Homo sapiens: one gene and its partners. The protein of the gene in region 2 interacts with the protein of the main gene of each other region in a pairwise test. Each region holds a gene or a part of one and is shown on either strand. Other genes may lie near its edges.

Region 1 (7,052 bases), on a different chromosome or scaffold from region 2:
CCACACCCAGCTAATTTTTGTATTTTTAGTAGAGACGAGGTTTCACCATGTTGGCCAGGCTGGTCTTGAACTCCTCACCTCAGCCTCCCAAAGTACTGAGATTACAGGTGTGAGCCACCGCGCCCAGCCCTAGCTAATTTTTGTAGAGACGAGGTTTCATCATGTTGGCCAGGCTGGTCTCAAACTCCTGACCTCAGGTGATCCCCTCCCAACCCTGGTCTCGGCCTCCCAAAGTGCTGGGATTACAGGCATGAGCCACCACGCCTGGCCAATTTTGTGAAATAATATTTTCAATCCTCAGCTGGTCAAATTCAAGGATGCAGAACTGTGGCTACAGAGAGCCAACTCTGTAGTACCTTATTGTGGAGTTAAAGGCAGGGTAGGATACTCTGGACAGAGGTTTTCAGGATACCTCTGGAGCTCTCCCCACACCATTAATTGTGTTTGTGCTTTTGTATCTTTCTCTGTTTCTCTTTTTAGTCTAGTGGCAATACCAGTGTATGTGAAACATAGTATCAGCTTTAAGGAGAACAGTTCTTGCGGCAGATTTGATATAACAATTGGACCAAAGCAGAATATGGGGAAAACTATTGAAGGAATTACAGTGACAGTTCACATGCCAAAAGTTGTGCTGAACATGAACCTGACACCCACACAAGGCAGCTATACATTTGATCCAGTCACCAAGGTACAGCCACTTCAAATCAAGAGTGAGCAAGTGTTTCTGCAATCTATTTTGTGATTTGTGGGGAGGAATGGAGGGAAAGGTTTGGCACCTTGTTTAAAACTAAAGTTCGTATCAAAACCTAGAGAGCATACTGTGCTGTGCTTCTGCCACTGGCTGCAGAAGGAATCCTGCAGCTGCTACTGAGTAGATGAACAGAAAAATGTGTCATTCTGTCCTTTTTCAGAGTGTGCCTTCACTCATCCATTATTAATCCAGAGCCTGACTCTGCTATCTAATAAGAAAGAAGTAAAAGCTTTTTTAAAAAGAGAAAACATTATGTAGATTGAAGAAGATATTATGATGGTCTATGAATTACTAAGTTTTCTATATAAATTGATCACTAAGACCTTTTTCTTCCTTTATAATTTAAAAGCATTATTTCATACTCTTTCACAGGGCTAGGAAAGTTGCTTCCTCACTCTACTTAAATTTTTGTGTAACAGAGGGTTTTCAGAGAAACTGTAGCAGATGATTTTCTCTCAGCTTCCTGATTAGCTGGTAAATATGATTGTTTTCAATAGCAGAGTCATTGAGCTACCTGATAAATGAAAAGACATGTTTTTTGAATAACATCATAGAATGTTAAAGATTATTTAATACAGTTGTAAGGATTCAAAGAACCTCCTCCTGGAGACCACACAGGGCTGAGAAAGGGAGCTTCAGATTCCTGGCCCTTTACCACAGCTTCAACTATGACAGCTTTGCTTTCTTTCTCATCTGCTGTTGAGCCTTCACACCGAAGATTTCATTTGAACAATGGGTTTCACAGCTAAAAGTTTTAAAAACACCATCTTAAGTCAATCTAATTATTTTACAGAAAAATAAACAGAGGCTGGGCGCAGTGGCTTACGCCTGTAATCCCAGCACTTTGGGAGGCCGAGGTGGGTGGATCACCTGAGGTCAGGAGTTCGAGACCAGCCTGACCAACATGGAGAAACCCCATCTCTACTAAAACTACAAAATTAGCTGGGCATGGTGGCGCATGCCTGTATCCCAGCTGCTTGGGAGGCTGAGGCAGGAGCATCGCTTGAACCTGGGAGGCAGAGTTTGTGGTGAGCCAAGATTGCACCATTGCACTCCATCCTAGGCAACAAGAGTGAAACTCTGTCTCAAAAAAAAAAGAAAAAGAAACAGGCCCAGAGAAAAGTGAAGATGGTTATGATGGAGAACATTTGAAATCAGAGGGCCTTAGGTTCAAATCCCAGCCTTACCTCTGACTAACTATGTGACCTTGAGCGAGTCATTTGATCTCTGAGCCTTAATGTCCTCTGAGCTTTAATTTCCTCATTTGTAAATAGAAGACAAAAGCTACTTCACAGCCCTCAATGAGACAACATATGAATAATGCTAAGCACGGTGCTAATACAAAAGAAAATGCTCAACAAATGTAGATTCTCTGCTCTCACTCCCCATTCAAAGTCACAGAATTAATCAGAGGTAAACTCACTGTAGATGCCAGATCTCTTGTTTTCAAGAGACTGCACTTCAGTTTGTACAGAAGTTTATGATATCTTTGAACTTTGTTTTTGAGGGTTTGTCTTTAATAAATGGTTCTATTTGTTTTTCATTTTTTGTCTTTTTAAGGTACTAACATGGGATGTGGGAAAAATTACTCCACAAAAGCTCCCAAGTCTTAAAGGACTGGTAAATTTACAGTCTGGAGCCCCCAAACCAGAAGAGAATCCGAGCCTCAACATACAGTTTAAGATCCAGCAGCTTGCTATTTCAGGTAAGGATAAGGTTGACTTGTAGTTAAGGGTAATTGAGTTTTGCAAGCTCATTTATTAGGCATTTAGAAGAGTAACAAAAGTTTCCTTCTCTAGAAAGAGCAGTAGCCCATTTGCCTTTTATACTGTGCTTGGTGGGGCAGTCTCACAGGCACCGACCAAATGATTTTTCAGAGCACCTTATTTCAAACAGCTTCCCCTCACCTCCGCCCTCATTTAAGCACCAAAAAGAGAGTTATTCATATTCACAGAAAGTAGAATTATACTTCACAGACATTCCCTGCCTGTGTGGGAATCTTAACCAAAACCATACCATCAAAGTGCAATAATTTGTAAATGATAGAAGAGACATTTCTTCCAAATGGTGGAAGGGACACTGGTTAATGTCAGATTTACCATATAGCGCTCATTGCTAACATTATATTGGTTGGGATGATGATAATTTATTCTTTTTCATTCTTTTTGATACAGGCTTAAAAGTAAACCGTTTGGACATGTATGGGGAGAAATATAAGCCATTTAAAGGAGTCAAATACGTCACGAAAGCTGGAAAGTTCCAAGTGAGGACATGAGAAGAGGCCAAAATTCCTCAGGACCAGTTTGTTTTCCAAGTGTCATTACGATGTATCACTATTAGGTACCAAGTGAGTGGGAATACATATTCTAGTTAAAGCATTTGTGTCTAGCTACACACCGCTAACAAAGTTACTTAGTTATCAATGTAGGATTCTTAAGGAGCTTTAAGCTAAGGAAACCTTTTAGTGACTTAGCTTATTTTGTATCTTTTCACTTAGGAAGATTTTGGAGGTGATTTTTTTCCATAGGAGGATACCATCTGGCGGCTGCACATTGTAACAGTAAAGGCAGAAAGCTGTAGTGATAACCTCTCTCCTAAAAGAGTTAACTGGTCTCATCCAGCAGAAGCTATCTTAAATCTGTGATGTGTCAGGTGCAGCCAAATATCACACCTTCTGATCTTAGCCATCCCAAACCAGTATCTGTCCCGAGAGGAAATTCCCCCCACCCCCAGAAGTTTACAGAAAACTGCCTCTTCAAGTGTTTGCCTTATTCAGCTTTTCACTTGTGCCATTAAGCAAGCACTGTAGCAAAAGCCACTTCCACATGGCCCTGGCAGGGAGCACTGCTGCTCCATGCTCCATTCTCACTGTACTTGGTATTGTATTTTTTATAAATAAGATTTTTATGTAAAGCTTAGAATTTGATTTACAGGGACCTTGCTGCAGTAAATACCATCTCAATTTTGTGCCACTGGTTCAGCTGTTAGCACAGTAAAAAAATCATTTGTATCAAAGGGGCAAATGCTTTATTAAGGTAGTAAAAGGGAACATTACTTCTGCTTTTAGGAAGTTACTGCAAGCACAAGCATTTGTGCTTTTAAGCAAATTAAAGTAGTAAAAGAAAAACTTAAGTGAAACCTTTGCCATCTTCATGTTTTATAATATAAAGCTTACCCAACACCAGTTAAGCCATGGTTAACCTAAATGCCTCATGCCCCAGTTCAGCAAAAGGAGGAAAATGTGCCTGCCTCACAGTCATCAGTCTTTTTAAATCTTTTTTGTTGTTGTTCTTAAGGGTTTGAATTTGTCTGCATTCCTTGTCTTTAGGGGAAATTCCCTTTTCATATTGTGTGCTTCCCAAAGCTATAGTCATAGATTTCTTCCAGAAACTATTGTCATAATTGTCACTGGAGTGCTTAAATATACGTACTATACTGACAAAATACATGGAAGTGAGTTATAATGAGGCAGAAACAAAATCCTCGGTAACATTGATGATACTCTACCGATCACCGTGGTTTTGGAAAGTCAGTCAACAGTTGTATTATTGCACTCAATTTCATTGTGACATTTTATTTAACTTCTTCATCTTGGTGGTCCTTGCCCAGTTATTTTGCCTCATTAGACATCAAGAAATGGAGAAAGACTGAAAGTTAATATCTTAAGTGCTTGTTCTTCATGTTTCCTTCTTGTTATTTATGCTATTCTCTTTGTGGCTCCATTCTTCTTTCAATCTTCTCAGCTTATAACCGTCTTTCCCTTATGCTAAGGATAGCCCTTACACTCATCCCATCTATGCTGTCAAGGGCTGCTGGTTGGTGCTGGTACAAGGAGCCCACTCAGCAGTTTTCTTACCTTTGCCTGCCCTGCCTTTCATGGAATAAGAAAGGCAACGTTTTGCAGCTTCCAAATTTCTGAAGAAACTAATCTCAGATTGGCAGTTAAAGTCAAAATGTTGCCAAATATTTATTCCTTTTGCCTAAGTTTGGCTACCCGGTTCAATTGCTTTTTATTTTTAATGTCTTGACTCTTCAGAGTTCGTACCTCAAAAGAACAATGAGAACATTTGCTTTGCTTTCTGCTGAATCCCTAATCTCAACAATCTATACCTGGACTGTCCAGTTCTCCTCCTGTGCTATCTTCTCTTCTATCCAAGTAGAATGTACGCCAGGAGCTCCTTCCCTCTAGCAATTTCTACTAAAATGTCCAAGTAGAATGTTTCCTTTTACAATCAAATTACTGTATTTATTAATTTGCTAGAATCCAGTAAATCATTTTGGTAGCTCTGGCTGTGCTATCAATAAAAAGATGAAAGCAACAAGTTGATTTTTTTTAGGTCTACTATTGATTGAACATTCTCCAATGGGCAAGGCTCATTGTCAAAGCAGGGTGAACATGATCAGATTTTCTTCTGCATCATCACACAAGCTGCGAGTGTTGCTGCAAAGCACTTCTCAGTACTCCTTCCCTAACCTCAGTATGTTAATAGCCATTCATACTTGGCTTAAGCATCACCATTCTGGCCACAGTCTGAGAGATTAGTGATCAAAGCTCCCTTCCCTATCACTACCACCACCTACTGATAACAAAGATTTCTGAATACTTAGTAGTAGTAAAATATTTTTCAAGCACAGAGTTACAGCTAATCCTGGATCACTTGTTCTAAATTCATAAGGGAGTATATCAAGAGCAAATGAAGTAAATGATTCTTTCCTGCGTGTGGGAGTCACCATCATTTTATTCAAAGGGAGTTCCTGTGATAGGTTCATTCCTTAAGTGGTGCTACAGAAGGACCCTAGGAAAATGCTGATCTTGTCCTGAGAGGCAACTGATTTGAGAAAATGATTATACTACAGCAGGAAGGCAGCACCAGTGAACATATGGTAAATGGCAAAAACAAGACAGTTTTAGAAACTGCTAATTCAGTAGCAGCCTTGGCCTTTCCCTTAACTCAAGCAGGCTGGAATCTGTCTTTATAGTCGGCAACTTTCCAAGATAAAGCAGTGATAATAGCAGTTGGCAACACTAAATATCAATATCATCACCCTTTAATGACATGTTACCCCTTTCAGATCTAGAAAATCAGGGAAAAAGTGATGTCCCAACTCTACTCTAAAAACCTGCTCCTACTATTTTAGTCAGTGTTTCTTTAAGGAAGAAGAGGACTATGTCCCCAAAAGCTAACTCTGTTTTATAGCCCTGGTGGATCCCTGAAAACCCTATTTATTCTATACTGGGCTTTGGAATATGAAAAATGGACCTGTGTGGCCGGGCGTGGTGGATCACACCTGTAATCCCAGCACTTTGGGAGGTCAAGGTGGGCGGATCACTTGAGGTCAGGAGTTCGAGACCAGCCTGGCCAACATGGTGAAACTCCATCTCTACTAAAAATACAAAAATTAGCCAGGCATGGTGGCGCACACCTGTAATCCCAGCTACATGGGAGGCTGAGGCAGGAGAATTGCTTGAACCCGGGAGGCAGAGGTTGCAGTGAGCTGAGATTGCACCACTGCACTGCAGCCTGGGCAACAGAGCAAGTCTCTGTCTTGCAGCAGGGGGAAGGACCTGTGGTACTCCTACAAACTTAACAACTTTAGCTTTTCGGGGAACAGTGGTGGTCTCCACAGATAGCTAGAATCTTCTAAGATGAAAATAAACTGTTTCATCCAGCTGCTTTCTGCCTGTTAACCTTTGCCACTTCCATTCCTTCAAGTGTGTAATCCCCAGGGTTGTCTTGTATTACACACATCCTTGTTAAGTAAATATACCACTGTTGATTTCTTCTTCCAGTGCAACATTTGGATTAAATAAAAATCTTTAGTTTCCAGATCTTGAGGATTAGTTTCATTGACTATTCATCAAAACAAAGGAGAAACCTGACCTAAAAGTTCTTGCTAAAGTAACATATCCATCATTTAAAGCATTTTTTATACAAATGCATTTTATTGTTTTAAACAGAACAAAAGAAGAGGCAGAAAATATTTGCATATAACAAATCCTAGCTTATAAATGTAGTTTTTTAGCGGTGATGTCTCTAATCATCATTCAGGGATTTTTTTTTTTTTTTTTTTTAATTTGCTTCACTGTGTCTCGAGCACTGATATTGGAGAAAAGCACATCCGGCATAAAGTGTAAACCAGTGTCTCAAACCACTGGAAGAACCGGGAGAGCAAACATGATTTTTCTTATTTCCTCTAAGTAATCTTTCTTTAGTAAAACAACAAGTGATCTTTGGCATAGATTCATACTTTAAAGGCATTAATATTGCATTTATATCAGGCAAGCAACTATACAAATATG
Region 2 (7,052 bases):
TCTAGTTGCCACTGTCCAGAGGCCTACAGAGTTTTGTTCCCATAGACCAGAGTTTCTCAACCTTGGCACTATTGACATTTGAGGCTGGATAAGCTCTTTGCTGTGGGGGCTGCCCTGTGCACAGTAGGATGTTTAGCAGCATCCTTGGCCTCTACCCGTAGATGCCAGTAGCACCCCTACTCCCTGGAGGTGTGGCAACCAAGAATGTTTCCAGACATTGCAAATGCCCCCAGTTGAGAAGCACTGTGTGGATACACGTTTGGCCTCTGTGCCCAGGTTTCTCACATGTCCTGCCACCCAACTTAGAGGTCTATTGAAGATAAGAAAGACAATACTATTTTGTGTGGCTATTAATTTAAAAATTGGTGCACCAATTAACTTTGGCTTCCTGTTCCTCTAAGTCTGGAACTCAGCTCATCTACTGACCTCTATAAAGGGCAACTGTGTAACTTTCCTGGCCTCCCTTCAGTGATTTAATAATTTCAGTGGCTTTTTTAACTGCTGTTAGGGTAATTGGGTGGTCCAGGCCAAAACAGGCAGGAAGTTGCCTTACTCAACAGGCAGAGTATATGGAAGGCCACCCTCCTCTCCTTTGGCCCCACCTCCCTCGCTCAGCCACCAGTAAGGCCTTCAGCTAATTTGTCTCTTGGAAGGCCTGGCTCTACCCGAAGAGCTGGGTTTCCACTCAGGCCAACTCCTCTGGTGCTCCCACCCTGGACATTGCACCCCTGAATCTTCCCAGGCTGTCCTACCTCAGAGTCTTTCCTTTTGCCACCTAAGCCTGGATAGAGAGATGCCTAGTTCCACCTGCAGCTGCTCTCCACTTTTTTAGAGTTGTTGGAAGAAAAGTAGGGATGGCCAAATCAGAAACAAACACATTTATCCTCAGTTACTAACAACTCCTGAATGTGCATTTGAAACAGGAATAACCACCATGGCCTGCCTAATGGTATCACAGGCAGGCAGGCAGGACCAGAAATCACCTGGCCGCATGCTCTCTAAGCCCTGGGACCACCCTGTCAGCCAGGTGGTCTGGTTGGAAGTGTGTAGGTCAATCCTAGGAGGATGTGTGGACAATAGACGGTGAGCAAAGGTTTCTGGGTAAGTTAGTGGCACCAGCGTTTGAGAAAGGCCATATGGAAGAGGTGAATTGGTAAGGGAGGGGGTGGAGGGAGAACAATGGGGCCTCAGATGAGAACCCAGGTTGGCATGGAGAGCCCAGTCATGGGGCCCCTGCAGCGGCCCACTGAGGCCATCAGAGGCTCTCTGCCTGTTGAGTAAGGCAACTTCCTGCCTGTTTTGACCTGGACCAATTACCCTAACAGCAGTTAATTAAAAAGCCACTGAAATTATTAAATCACTGAAAGGAGGCCAGGAAAGGTACACAGTTGCCCTTTATAGACATCAGTAGATGATCTGAGTTCCAGACTTACAGGCAACAGGGCCTGGCCTGGGTTGCCGGAACCTGCCAAGGATAGGGGGCACAGCGTCTGGGTGTAAGACCTACTCATCCACCTACCTGCTGGGGACTCCAGATAAATCTCTGAGCCTCTCTCTGAGCCTCTGTTCTAACCTTTGTGGACAGCAGTATAAAAGTATATAAATCCATTTGACTGTTCAATTCTACTTCAAAGAATTGACAATAAGGAAAAAATCATGTATTCATATATTCATTCATATACGGGGATGTTCAATACAATGGTGTGTACAATTCTGGCAAACAGAAAAGCACACCAAATATTATATGCCCAGATATAAGAATGTGAGTTAATGAATTATGACACAGCCATAAACAGAATATATGCAGCTTCTCAAATCAGTATCCTTGATAGGATATACCATTAATGAAGGGAAAAAAGGGATGACAAAGCAATATGCTCGAAATAATTCTATTTTGTTATATATATATATATACACACACACACAATATTTAGAAAAAAGTCTGTAAGGATATACGCAAAAATGTTAGTTATGGGTGGCAGAATTATCTTAGTGTTTTTGTGCATTTTCCAAATTTTTTACAATCAACACAGATCTTTATTGTGGGGGAAAAGTGGTTGTGGTGAAGAAAGCAACCAACTCCTCAGCAGGGGCTAGGAGAAGAGCTCCAACCTCTGCTTTGTATGTTCTCACAATGAAACCAAAACAGTAAGAGATGTCCCATGTTTTCATACAATGTACAAAAGCAGGAAGTACCTATTTGTAAACATTTTGGCATTTTTGTAGATTTCCCTGAAAAAAATGGTCAAATTGTTATAGACTTGGCAGCCACAGAGTCTCTGCTTATCTGCAAAGAGCCTCAGCTTCCAACTCTAAAGCCTGCACTATTCAATCAGAGGGCAATGAATGCATCTTTTGACCTTGTTGCTGCCTTCCTGAATGCTGTTGGGGTGGCTGAATCTCAAAGCCAGCCTGGAGTCTGTCTTATCAGTAACTGCTGGTAATTAAGCAAGCCATGTCAATAGTTTCACACACAACACAGAAGGCAGTAAATGGGAGGATCCCACTTCCCTTCTGAGAAGACCCTGTGGGACTGTAACACGGAACCTACCACTACCACCAGCCAGTCTCCAAGCTATCACCTACCCTTCTTCTGGGAAGAATGATGAGCTTTGTGTGTCCAAGGTATCAGGTAGGTGTAGGACCTCCTCACCCACCCACCTGCTGAGGACTCGAGGTAAGTCTCTGAGCCTCTCTAAGCCTCTGGTGTAACCTTTGTGGACAGCAGTATAAAATAAAAATATATAAATACATTCGACTGTTCAATTCTGACCTAATCTTCTTCTGGGAAGAATGATGAGCTTTGTGTGTCCAAGGCTCCTTATTAGAAAGTCTAGAGGAACTAGTTTGCATAGGGATTATCTTGGTAGGATTTTCAGATCAAAATCAGTTTCCACAAATAAAAGTCAGAATCTCAATTAGACAGCTCTGGACTATTTTGTTACAGAGACCCACAAATATAGGATATATGCTTTCTTTCCTTCAAGGGAGTCATTGAAAGGCAGCCACATACAAAATAAAAGACAGTTCCCTGGCATCCCTCCATTTATTCATTAACAAAACCCTACTGGGTATCTATTGTATGGGAAGCAATATGGTAGGTGCCAGGGCTGCCATACTGTTGGATACATTCCCTGCCCTCACAGGGCTTCCAGTCAGGTATCAATCAAATAACTGCACAATTTACATGAGGCGAAGTGCTCCAGAAGCAAAGTACAGCTTTATGGGGCCCTGGAAGAATGCATGATAGGTACATTTTACCTGGATAAAGGGATCAGGATAGATTTCCCTAATGGAGTAAGAATTCAAGCTGAGACCAGAAGAAAAGTAGGAATTGGACAGGAAAATGGTTAGGAGTGAGGAGGGGGTAAGGGTAGGGAAGGAGGGACAGTGAGCAATTAATCATTCCAAGAAGAGGGACACAACATAAACAAGAGCCCTCAATTGGAAAGGAGCTTGGCTAAAACTGAGAAATAACTTTTCTTCATTGAACAAAGAGTTTCGTGTGGTGAGCTAGTCCAACAGCCTGACCTGCCCCACAAAAGGAGGGAAAGAGAAAGAGAGAGAGAGAGAGAGATGGTAGACAGATGATAGGTAGGTAGATAGATGATAGATAGATAGATAGATAGATAGATAGATAGATAGATAGATAGATAGATAGATAAAAATGAATGGATTGCTGGATCTGGAAAAGATGCAGAAATAATCTCCCTATGACCTTGTGTCTTAGTGAATCTCAATAAAGACAGACAATAAAGCAGTAAATGCAAGCATTGTTTGGGAACTATGGTACTTGGACCAAAAGCTCTATGTTCTGTGAACTAACTTACCCCAAGGAAAGCATTTAGAGAACCTGGTAAATGGCTGGCCAACATCCCTCTTTGTTTCCTTCTCCAGCCCAGATCTCTGGGAGCATGTGTCCCACTGCCTCCATGACAGTTCCACTTGCTTGTCGCACAAGCAGCTCAACTCAGCTGTCCAATACTGAAGCCTGGAGCACACCCCACAGGCCCCCTGCCTCTCACTAACTTCCTGTCACCTCCAACCACCCAGGTGTTGGACAGAAAGCTGGGAATCGTCCTTGACTCTTCCCCTAACTCCTTACAATGAAGTCATGATGATTCTGCCCCAAGCAGGACATGTCGTGCCCAAGGGATGGACAGGGAAGTAACTGGTGCCCCTGGAGTTGTTCAGCATGGCATCCCTGCCCCCAGTATAACTCAAATCCACCTCCCTCTCTCTCATTCTCTACTGACAGCCCCTGACCTAAGTTAGCACCATCTAACTGGAGTCTTACTTTTCCTCCCGCTTCAGTCCAATTGGCTCTCCACACAGCAGCCAGAAGCAGCATTTAAAAGTGCAGGTCAGATCATGCCCCTTGCTCAAACCCCCTTCAGTAGATTTCCAGCGCTTTTTAAAAATGAAGTCTCAGTCCCTAACCCAAAAGTGGTCCCCCGTGAGCTGGCCTCTACCGCAGCTCCAGCTTCTCACACCGCTTTCACCCTTGCTCCCTGTTCTCCAGCTCTTCCCAACTCAGGGCCTTTGAAGGGGCTCTTCCTTGTGCCTGGAATGCTCTTCCTCACATTTCTCATCATTCCTTGGAGCTTGACTCAAGGGTCAACTCCTCAGAGAGGCTTTCACTGACTTCAAATGGCCTTTGCTAATCCTCTAATTTAGGTCCCTTGGTTATTTTATCTCAGGGGATCATTTCTTCATAACATTTACACTTTTCATAACTAACCCAATTGTGTTACTCTTTTGTGACTATTTGTCTTGCTAGCAAGCAGCATGATGGTAGGAGTTATACCTAATTTGCTCACCACAGTGATCCCAGAACCAAGATCAGTCCCCGGCACATAGTAGTTACTCAGTAAGTATTAGCCCCTAGCAGCTTCATTCGTCATAATTGCCAAAACTTAGAAGCAACCCAGATGTCCTTCAGTAGGTGAATGAATAAATAAACTGTGGTACATCCAGACAATGGAATATTCTTCGGCACCAAAACAAATGAGCTATCAAGCCACTGAAAGATACAGAGAAAATGTAAATGCATATTATTAAGTGAAAAATGCCAGTTTGAAAAGGCTACGTAATGCATGAATCCAATTACATGACTTTCTGGAAAAGGCAAAACTATGGAGACAGTAAAAACATCAGTGGATGCCAAGAATTCGGAAGTGGGAGGAATGAATAGGTGGAGCATGGAGAATTTTTAGGGCAGTGAAAATACTCTGCATGATATTATAACGGTAGATATAAGTCATATACATTTGTCCAACCCATAGAACGTCTACCAACCATCAAGAGTGAATCCTAATGTGAACTATGGACTTTGGGTGATAATGATGTGTCATTGTAGGTTCATCAATTGTAACACATGTACTACTCTGCTGGGGAATGTTGATCATGGGGGAGGTTGTGCATGTGTGGGGGCAGGGGATATATGAGGAATCTCTGTGCCTTCCTTTCAATTTTGCTGTGAACCTAAAACTGCCCTAAAAAAGGAGCCTTTAAAAATTAACTTTTTAAAATTCATTAATTAATTAAAATAAATATATACTGAAGGAATAAATAAATCTCTTTTTTCAGGTATCACTTCTTCCTTTTTTTCTTTCTTTTGATGAAAGCCAAAATGCCATCAGCTCATTTTTTTCTTATAAGTCCATAAAAGAATGATGTGTCCTGCAACTGATGGGCTCGTAGATTCAATGAAGGACAGGATATAGAGAAATTGGGCTCAACTGTATGTCCAGCTGGTTTGGCTGTTCCAGCCCTACTCAAGGCAGGACAGCTTGCAAGCATAGCGCACACGTCTCAAAGGCTCAAAACCTACCCACATTCTTGGGTGTCCTGCTGAGTCCCCAAGAGCACTGAGGAAGCAACCACTTGACAGTATTCCATATTTTCACAAATCTTGTCTGCCTCACACGCCAGCCATCAGCGCAAAATGACCATTCCTAAATTCTCTATAAGTCAAAATCTCTGTCTTCAAAAGGCCCACGTTCAGAAGTTACCTCCCATAAGACTTCCTCTGGCTCCCCATGATGATATGAACATGCCTAGTCAACGTTCATTTCATTCCACCTGGTGTTATTAAGTTAGTCTACCTATGCCTCCCCTAGTAGACTTAGAACCCCCTGAGGTCAAGAAATATTCTCCCTCATCTCCACATTGCTCTATTCCCTGCAGACAGCTTGGCATATCAAAGATATCCAATCAGTTCAACAAGCTGATTCAAATGTCCCTCCATCTAAGGCAATTTGTCCAGAGAATCTTCCTGCACTATACAATTAATTCCAAATTGAAATGCCAAAGACCAGAAACCTGGAAGTGGGGAAAAAATCCAATAATTGATTTCAGAAAAAAAAGTGGAATTCCAAATCTCTTAAAACATAATTTTGAAATCCTTTAAAACATATGAGCCTTATTAATTACTCTGCAAATACTCATCTCAGAGAATGTCCACATAATGCTTAATTCCTAATGATTACTGGTCTGAATTTGTAGCTGATTCCCTCATGCTTAAATTACAAAAGATTAAGATGGAACAATGACATTGGGGAAACAATCTCCTTCTTAATTGTGCCATTTCAGCTGCAAATACCCTTTTATGTATATAACTAATTCAAATCTTCACTATTTCCTATACATCAGAAACACTTAAATGTCATTCAAAAAGGCAGCAAAACAACACACACACACACACACACAGACACACAAAACGGAAGATTCTATGACTTCACTCTCTAGTCTAAAGGATATATGTCATTCCTGGCCAGAGAGAAAAGAGAAAATCAGCCAATACAACAGTTTCAGTGACCAACGTAAGGACTGTAAATGACCCAGAAGGAGGAGGCACCAGGGGCCACAGGATATGAGGAATATAACCAGGACTGTCATAGCAGAAGTCATGAGGAGAATATCTGGGAGCCCAATCCTTTCTTCTCCTCTCCCAGAGTAGCTGGTAGAATCCTAACCTAAAACCCCAACAGGGGACCTTGAAGGAGCAGATTCCAAATTTGGACCTGTATTATATCCACAGAGTAACATGA
Region 3 (7,052 bases), on a different chromosome or scaffold from region 2:
ATACCTGAGCCCTACATTTTCCCTCTCCCCGCTCCCTTTAGATGAAGGGTCACAGTAAGAAATGAATACATTTTTCTCAAAGTCTGGAAAAATGGCTTCAAATAAATATTAATCTACCGCAATCGATATATATGAGGAATGGAGAGGGGCTGGTAGGAGAGTGGTGACTACAGAACTATATTAAAACAAAGGTTGCAGTTAAAGAAAATCAGGGCAGAAAGCAAGGCAGCAGGCCTGAGGCTCTAATCACAGAACAGAGTGATGGAGATGAACCAATACTGCATGGATTAGCGATGAATTATTTTGAACCATAATCATATGCCTGCACAGGAGAGAGGCAAAAACTAACCATTGCTCGTAAACTGATGGCTGCTGATTTCCAGAGACAGAAAGAGAGAAGCAAAGAGAGAGAAAAGAATAAATTCATATGCTAAACTAATTCAGAATAATGAAAACCTAAAGATGGGGTTATACTTCAAGTAACATTTTATTTTTAATGTCTGCTACATACTACATAATATGGAGTGTTTTGAATATAAACTGTAAAGTTCTTAGATTCAAACAGGATTAAACCAACCATTTCTTCTAAGATTAGGATGCAATATATCTACTCTACATTCTTCACTGCCCAATAAAACCATTTTTGGACAACTTTGACATCCCCAAAATATAAATTTTTTAAGTATTTATGTATAAAGAAGAAACAGCATTCAAGAAATTAACTTCCTTTGGATAATCTGAAAAATTCATAGCAAATGAAGATTCAATTGTTAAAACTAATTTTGTTAGGAAGAAAAAACTAAAAACTGCTGGTAGCAAGAGATTCCTGAGATTCTTATGAACAGACTGTTTAAATGAAGAGCACTTTAATCAGTAGAGGAATCCTCACGTTTCTAATGTCTTGCTGTGCATTCTGCAGGTTATAGTAGCAGCTGGAAGAGGTCATATATCTCTTGTGAGCATCCCAAAAAGGCTCACTGCCAGACTGTTAAATTATGAATAAGCAATGAACAAAAGAATGCAGATACGGTGGTGACAAGATAATCCAAGCAAATTTATCTATGACAAATTTCACAGGATTAACAAATTACATTTACACAGAACAATAAAAATGTGCAAAAAAAAATGATGAGCCTACTTTGCCTTACAGCATTAGGAAAACAAAAAGTCACCAATCCACTGCATACATTTAAATTTAACTCAATCTAAAGTAAGACATTTATAATGTTCAAGATATCTTTGTAACTTTTTTCCATTTTAGATAGACATACACAAACATGGTATATCTCATACATATTTTATATATAATTTATGTTGTAAACAGTGTATATATATGTGTGTATCATGTGACATATATATGCTGTGTACACTATATACAAAAATCTTGTATAATTAAAAAAATTCATATACCTGAATAGAATATATATGTTTTTAGAAGTGGATTCTGATGAATAAATTATATTTGTAAAGGGAAAATGCCCCTTCCATCAGCACAATACATACTAGTTAATAAAATATCCATATTCATTCATGTCTCCATTTTCTAGGACCAGAGAGAGAAGTTCTGCAAACAATTTCAATCATTCCACTTGCCACCATTGAAATACTGCCATCTTTCTGAGCTAAAGTGCTTCTGAATGAAGTTTAGAGCTAGCATCCTTTTCCGCAGTGTTACTGTAGCAGAAAGGAAAAATCAGAGATTTGGGGAAGAGAGTGTTAATTATAGCTATATTCACACTTATATTGACCCTTAATCCAATATTAATTTTTCTTTATAAGAAAATTATTTTTATAAATCTTACAAATGAAAATGCCCTAGTTCATCAGATATAATGAAATATTATTGAAATGACCTATAAGTTTATAAAGTGGTCTTAAAATGCTGTGGGACACTACTTTCCAAAATATGCAATTAAGATTTGTAAGTTTAATGTTTTACACTAGGTACCCAACTCACAGCCCTTTAATTCTGCATTAGCATACTGATGATAATATAATAATGTAATCAGATGTAATCTCTTTTAAGATGATCTGATGGTGGTTAAAAATTTTGTAGTCTATTTTTCACTTATACTTCCTATTGACTTTTGTTTTTTATCTTCAATATTTCAGTAAAATATCCCTTTAAATTTTAAGTCCTTTGCAACTTAAAAGGCAACTTATCCTTTCATAAACAAGATATTTGCTGAATGTAAAAAATGAATCCAATACACAAGCGAATTATCTTGCAATCACAAATACTCAAGCACTTCTTATCTAGTCCTTTTAAGCCCGAAATTTCTATTATACCTATTATTTTTAAAGAAGCTATTTAGTTGACAATATTACATCCAAAAACGTAAAGATAAATGTGGCATGTTTGTCTGCTACTGAGATCTTGCATATATTCTGCAATGAACACCCACATCACACGCTACAAAGTTTCCTAAAGTACAGCTTTTGTTAAAGAACTGTTATGTATCAGACCAACCCTAGGGTTCCTGGCATAGAGGAAAAAAAGTTACCAAAGGCTAACTTTCCCTTCTTGAAGATGACTCTGTGTGTGTGTGTGTGTGTGTGTGTGTGTGTGTGTGTGCGCGTGTGTGTGTGTTGGGGGGATGGGGGAGTAAATAACTTACCATTTATGTATTTATTGTGGCCCATTTTAACATGTCATGTTTTTAATTAAATGAGTGAATGCATGTAAAGCTCTCAGAAGAGTACCTGTTTATTAGCACACGATGCTATATAAATGCTTGCTGCCATTATTATAATGCCAGATAATTTGGCAGGAGGCCAACTTGTACAAATCCTTACAAATTTCAAAAGACAATGTCCAGAAATACAGTTAGGTACTAAAATGAGTTATTCAGAAAGCCTTATGAGACAGTTTTTACACAACCAGTGGCAAAACTATCACAAAATAAAAATGCTTCAACTATAATCTTTAGAGAAACTTGTGGCACACTCTGAGCCATGAATTATATGAGCAGAAGAGGGCCTTGAGAACTTCATATGCTGTGACCAAAGAGGCAGATGTACGTGGCAAACTGATTCTTCTGGCACCACTCAGCTACAAATCTGCCCTGAAGTATGTATAGTTATGGAGCTTGCCCACAAAACTACTGGGATAGTAAAGGGTGAGGTAACGATGCTTTCAATATTGATTCTTTCTCTAATTTCATAAACACTGTATTTCTCCAAACATCTGATGAAGGACCAAAACAGAGGGCTATCGTTCACTACCCATAGTGAACTGGTCTTTCTGCCATTGGAACTCTCTGATATTGGCTCGGAAATCTCTGAGTTTGGAAAGTCTGAAAACGCAGGCCCTTCCACACTGGTGTTAAGGTACATTTCTACAAAGACTGTACTGCCTAAGTTCACCTGAGAGACAAACCTGAATTCAGTCTCTATCACCTTCCTTGGGAATGCTAAACCTCTATTTTCTCATGCATAAATGGGGATATTAGCACTTCCCTCATAGGTCAGTGGGGAAACTAAAGAGAAAATTATTGTGAAGCATGTAATATAGTGTCTGAAACATGGCAGTGTCCAATGTTTATATTATTATATAATCATCATCGTATATAACCTATTTTTATTTTTAAATCCCATCAAAATAACTTTTATAAAATTTACTACAATTTCACTTCAATTTATACAGTATCTTTTCTCTCTCTGTCCTCCAGGAGCCTCTAATCACTTTGTAGTCACTAATTACAATATTTTACAAGTTGAATAACTATCCTCACAGAACACTAAGCTAACAGAAGTGAAAAAAGAAAGCCTTATATTTCTATGAATTCATTACTTCTTACTCTTTTAGAAAAGGGTATCTTCTGGCTCTCTATAATATTTTGTATAACCAATAGAAGGGCAAGCCTACAACCAAAGCAACTGCTCTTACAAGGTATATATTTAGTACTGTACCTGGCACGCATAACCACGGTCCATGGTAGAGGTTCAATAAATGAAGCTGAATGAAAGAACCAGTCAATCATTACAGTCTAGGGCCAGGAGAACTGTGGGCCATAGTAACATAAGATCTTCATCTTGCTTCCCCTGATTTCACATACAAGACCACAGTATTTCAATTAATTCACCAAGACGTGATGTTTTACAAATGTATACAGAAAACTTCAACTATTGTTTAATGTTGTCACTGCCCTAGTCATTTCAGATACAGTAGCAGTTACTTTATTCTTACTAAGCCATGTCCTGTTTATGCATTGTAGTATTACTAATATTACTACACATTCTTCTAACTATTCTATCAAACTTAATAGTGCAAACATCCTATTCACACTAATGAGGCTCAGCGCAGTAAAAATACCATTCAGTTACAGTTGGTTTATTACACTGACCAATGAGGGGGGAAAAAAGGCCACTATTTACTGGGAAAATACTAACATCACCGAATGCAAACAATTGGATTTTCTGATAAATTCTAGTTCTTACTAATCATAGATATATTTAAAGTTTCACATATTCCATTATGTGCAATTTTGATAGCATTTAAAATTTAAAGAATAATATTTAATCAAGTAAAATTTAACATACTAACTTATTTACTAAGTTTCAGCCTTATTCATCCTAAGCAATTAAAGACACGTCTATAAAACACCTGAAGTTAGACTGTAGCCCAAATACAATGCAGAACTTTAAAAAATCAATTAGAATGATTAAATGTTATACGCAGAAAAAGTGACTGTGTAAACATAGCATGGAGGTGGCAGGAGCTACCTCTGCTTTCATGAGTGTTAATTTTCTTTAAATTTAGTGACATTTTGCATAAGACATAGGTTTACTAGAATTGTAGAAAAACAAAAACAGATTAAGGTTACATTAGGGTCATTATTAATAGTAAAGCACTTAAGGAAGTTAGTAGAGGAAAGCATTAAAAGGATTTTGAAACTTTTGTAATATATTCTCCATAAATATCCCCAAATAAAGGCCAGGCACAGTGGCTCACGCCTGTAATCCCAGCACTTTGGGAGGCTGAGGCAGGCAGATCACCTGAGGTCAGGAGTTTGAGACCAGCCTGGCCAACATGGTGAAACCCCTATCTCTACTAAAAATACAAAAATTAGCTGGGCGTATTGGCATGTGCCTGTAGTCCCAGCTATTTGGAAGGCTGAGACAGGAGAATCATTTGAAGGCAGAGGTTGCAGTGAGCTGAGATTGTGCCACTGCACTCCAGCATGCCTGGGCAACAGAGCAAGACTCTGTCTAAAAAAAAAAAAAAAAAGAAAAAGAAAAGAAATAAAGAAACAAAAAAGAAATCCCCAAATATGAAGACCTACTGCTTAAGAAAATAAATAATGCTTCCCCAAAAGTGTTGCTTTACAGAAGCCATAGAAAACCTCACCACAGAGCAGGGGATCCTAGCAGCAGGTCCTACTTCAAACAGACACAATTGTAACATAGCACTGAATCCCAGACCAGGATCTGGGGCAGGGAAGAGGAGTAAGGTGGTTCATAAGTATTCTGGCCTTCTCATAAAATAGCTATATTATAGTATAGGGCCAGCCATTGGGTAGAAGAATTACAGGGGAAGATCAAAATTCATATGACTAAAATTATCAAACTGCTCCAATTTCTGGATTATATTTGAAGTACAGTATAAGTCTTACCAATTGATTGCTGAGATATTAATTACACATCACTTTTAGCCATATTTTTAAGACTATATAAAGACACAGAAACCAAAACCTTACTAATAACACTACTAGGTGAAAACACCTCATGTAACTTTAAAAAAAAAAAAGTATCGAATAATGTTGAATTCAAGTTTGCTCATTTGCTCACTGTAAGGAATCAAATCTAGTGATTGGCATATTGCACATGTGGAGTAGTTATATGTCTTTCAATTCATAAATCAGAAATTGGAAATCTGAAAAGATGTTGTAATGAGGGAGGGTCTTACATAATAAAGGTCATTATAACTCCTGGCTCTGGAGCTATACGATCTAATATCCTCTCTGGTGGATCATGATATGCCCATGCATTACAGTTCTTGTTGACAGTCTGTTGCCTTGGAAATATTTCATTATTTCAGTTTTTCCATTTGTAGACCCTTGGCCTTGTGATATGAAGGCCATCCTATTTCATATTTTCGATTATCATTTAAGCAATCTTGTGGAGCTATTTATATATATAAGCAAGTGTTAGACAATGCATATAATCATTTATCACCCCTATTTAAGCTTATACTGTAGATAGAAATACCTCCAAAAACCAGTCTCCACCACCTTTACTTTTTAAACCAAAAGCCTTGTGCTACTGGGATACGCTTTGCAAATCAGCATGGGCATATCACATGCTTGACACTTCTCTCTGTCTAATTTTTTTGGTTATACATCCACATAGTAGAAAAACTTTGTGGTAGTGCTATATAATTTGCAGTCTATTGGCGTTTAAAGAAAATCAAACAAGTTTATGTACACAAGGTTTTCAACTTGTTCTTTCAGGCTCTAAAGAGACACTTTCTGTATATGTAATTCAGAGAAATGTAAGGAGCACTAAATAGTAACCAAAGACATTATCAAGAACGAGCTTATTTTTCTGAAATTTACATTATAAACATTACTATAAGGAAATGACTTTGGTACTGTATTACTATACACAGGTTAGACATTTCATAAATAAATGAGACAATTCAAAAGATATATTTTTCTCTGTAAGTTTCAGATTACTAATATATTTGAAAAGCAGTAAAGAATAAACTGTCCATAAATGCCTCTGTGAAATCAATGATTTTGAAAACATTTTTTTAAATAAATAGGAGGATACCATTTAAAACATATCCACAGAAAGTCATCTTTTATAAACATATTTGTGTTCAACTGCTACAAGGAAATACTTGTTAACCAACAAGTTCTAGGCACAATGTGCAAATAAAGGTGGAATTACTCACTTACTTGAAGCAAGTATGAAAAACAGCCCCCTCCTAAACAAATCATCTGATTTCCCATTTCTCATTACAAAGCCAAATCAACTTACATGTGTAATGTTTACACTTAAAGTGTTAAGAGCATTTAAAACCCTGACAACAAAGTGAACCCTTGGGG

What was found. The genes of interacting proteins can lie anywhere in the genome.
Region 1: the proteins of ARNT2 (region 2) and AP3M1 interact in binary tests that used the Homo sapiens proteins (3 or more experiments, as listed by UniProt).
Region 3: the proteins of ARNT2 (region 2) and NPAS3 interact in binary tests that used the Homo sapiens proteins (3 or more experiments, as listed by UniProt).

The regions. Positions count from the first base shown.
Region 1 is NC_000010.11:74,119,784-74,126,835, reverse strand, and holds the end of AP3M1 (AP-3 complex subunit mu-1), read left to right. Parts: intron 1-480; coding exon 481-688; coding exon of another isoform or gene 689-710; intron 711-2,311; coding exon 2,312-2,456; intron 2,457-2,925; coding exon 2,926-3,026; 3' UTR 3,027-6,581; downstream 6,582-7,052. UniProt on the Homo sapiens protein: Part of the AP-3 complex, an adaptor-related complex which is not clathrin-associated. The complex is associated with the Golgi region as well as more peripheral structures.
Region 2 is NC_000015.10:80,407,369-80,414,420, reverse strand, and holds part of ARNT2 (aryl hydrocarbon receptor nuclear translocator 2), read right to left. Parts: intron 1-7,052. UniProt on the Homo sapiens protein: Transcription factor that plays a role in the development of the hypothalamo-pituitary axis, postnatal brain growth, and visual and renal function. Specifically recognizes the xenobiotic response element (XRE).
Region 3 is NC_000014.9:32,941,872-32,948,923, reverse strand, and holds part of NPAS3 (neuronal PAS domain-containing protein 3), read right to left. Parts: intron 1-7,052.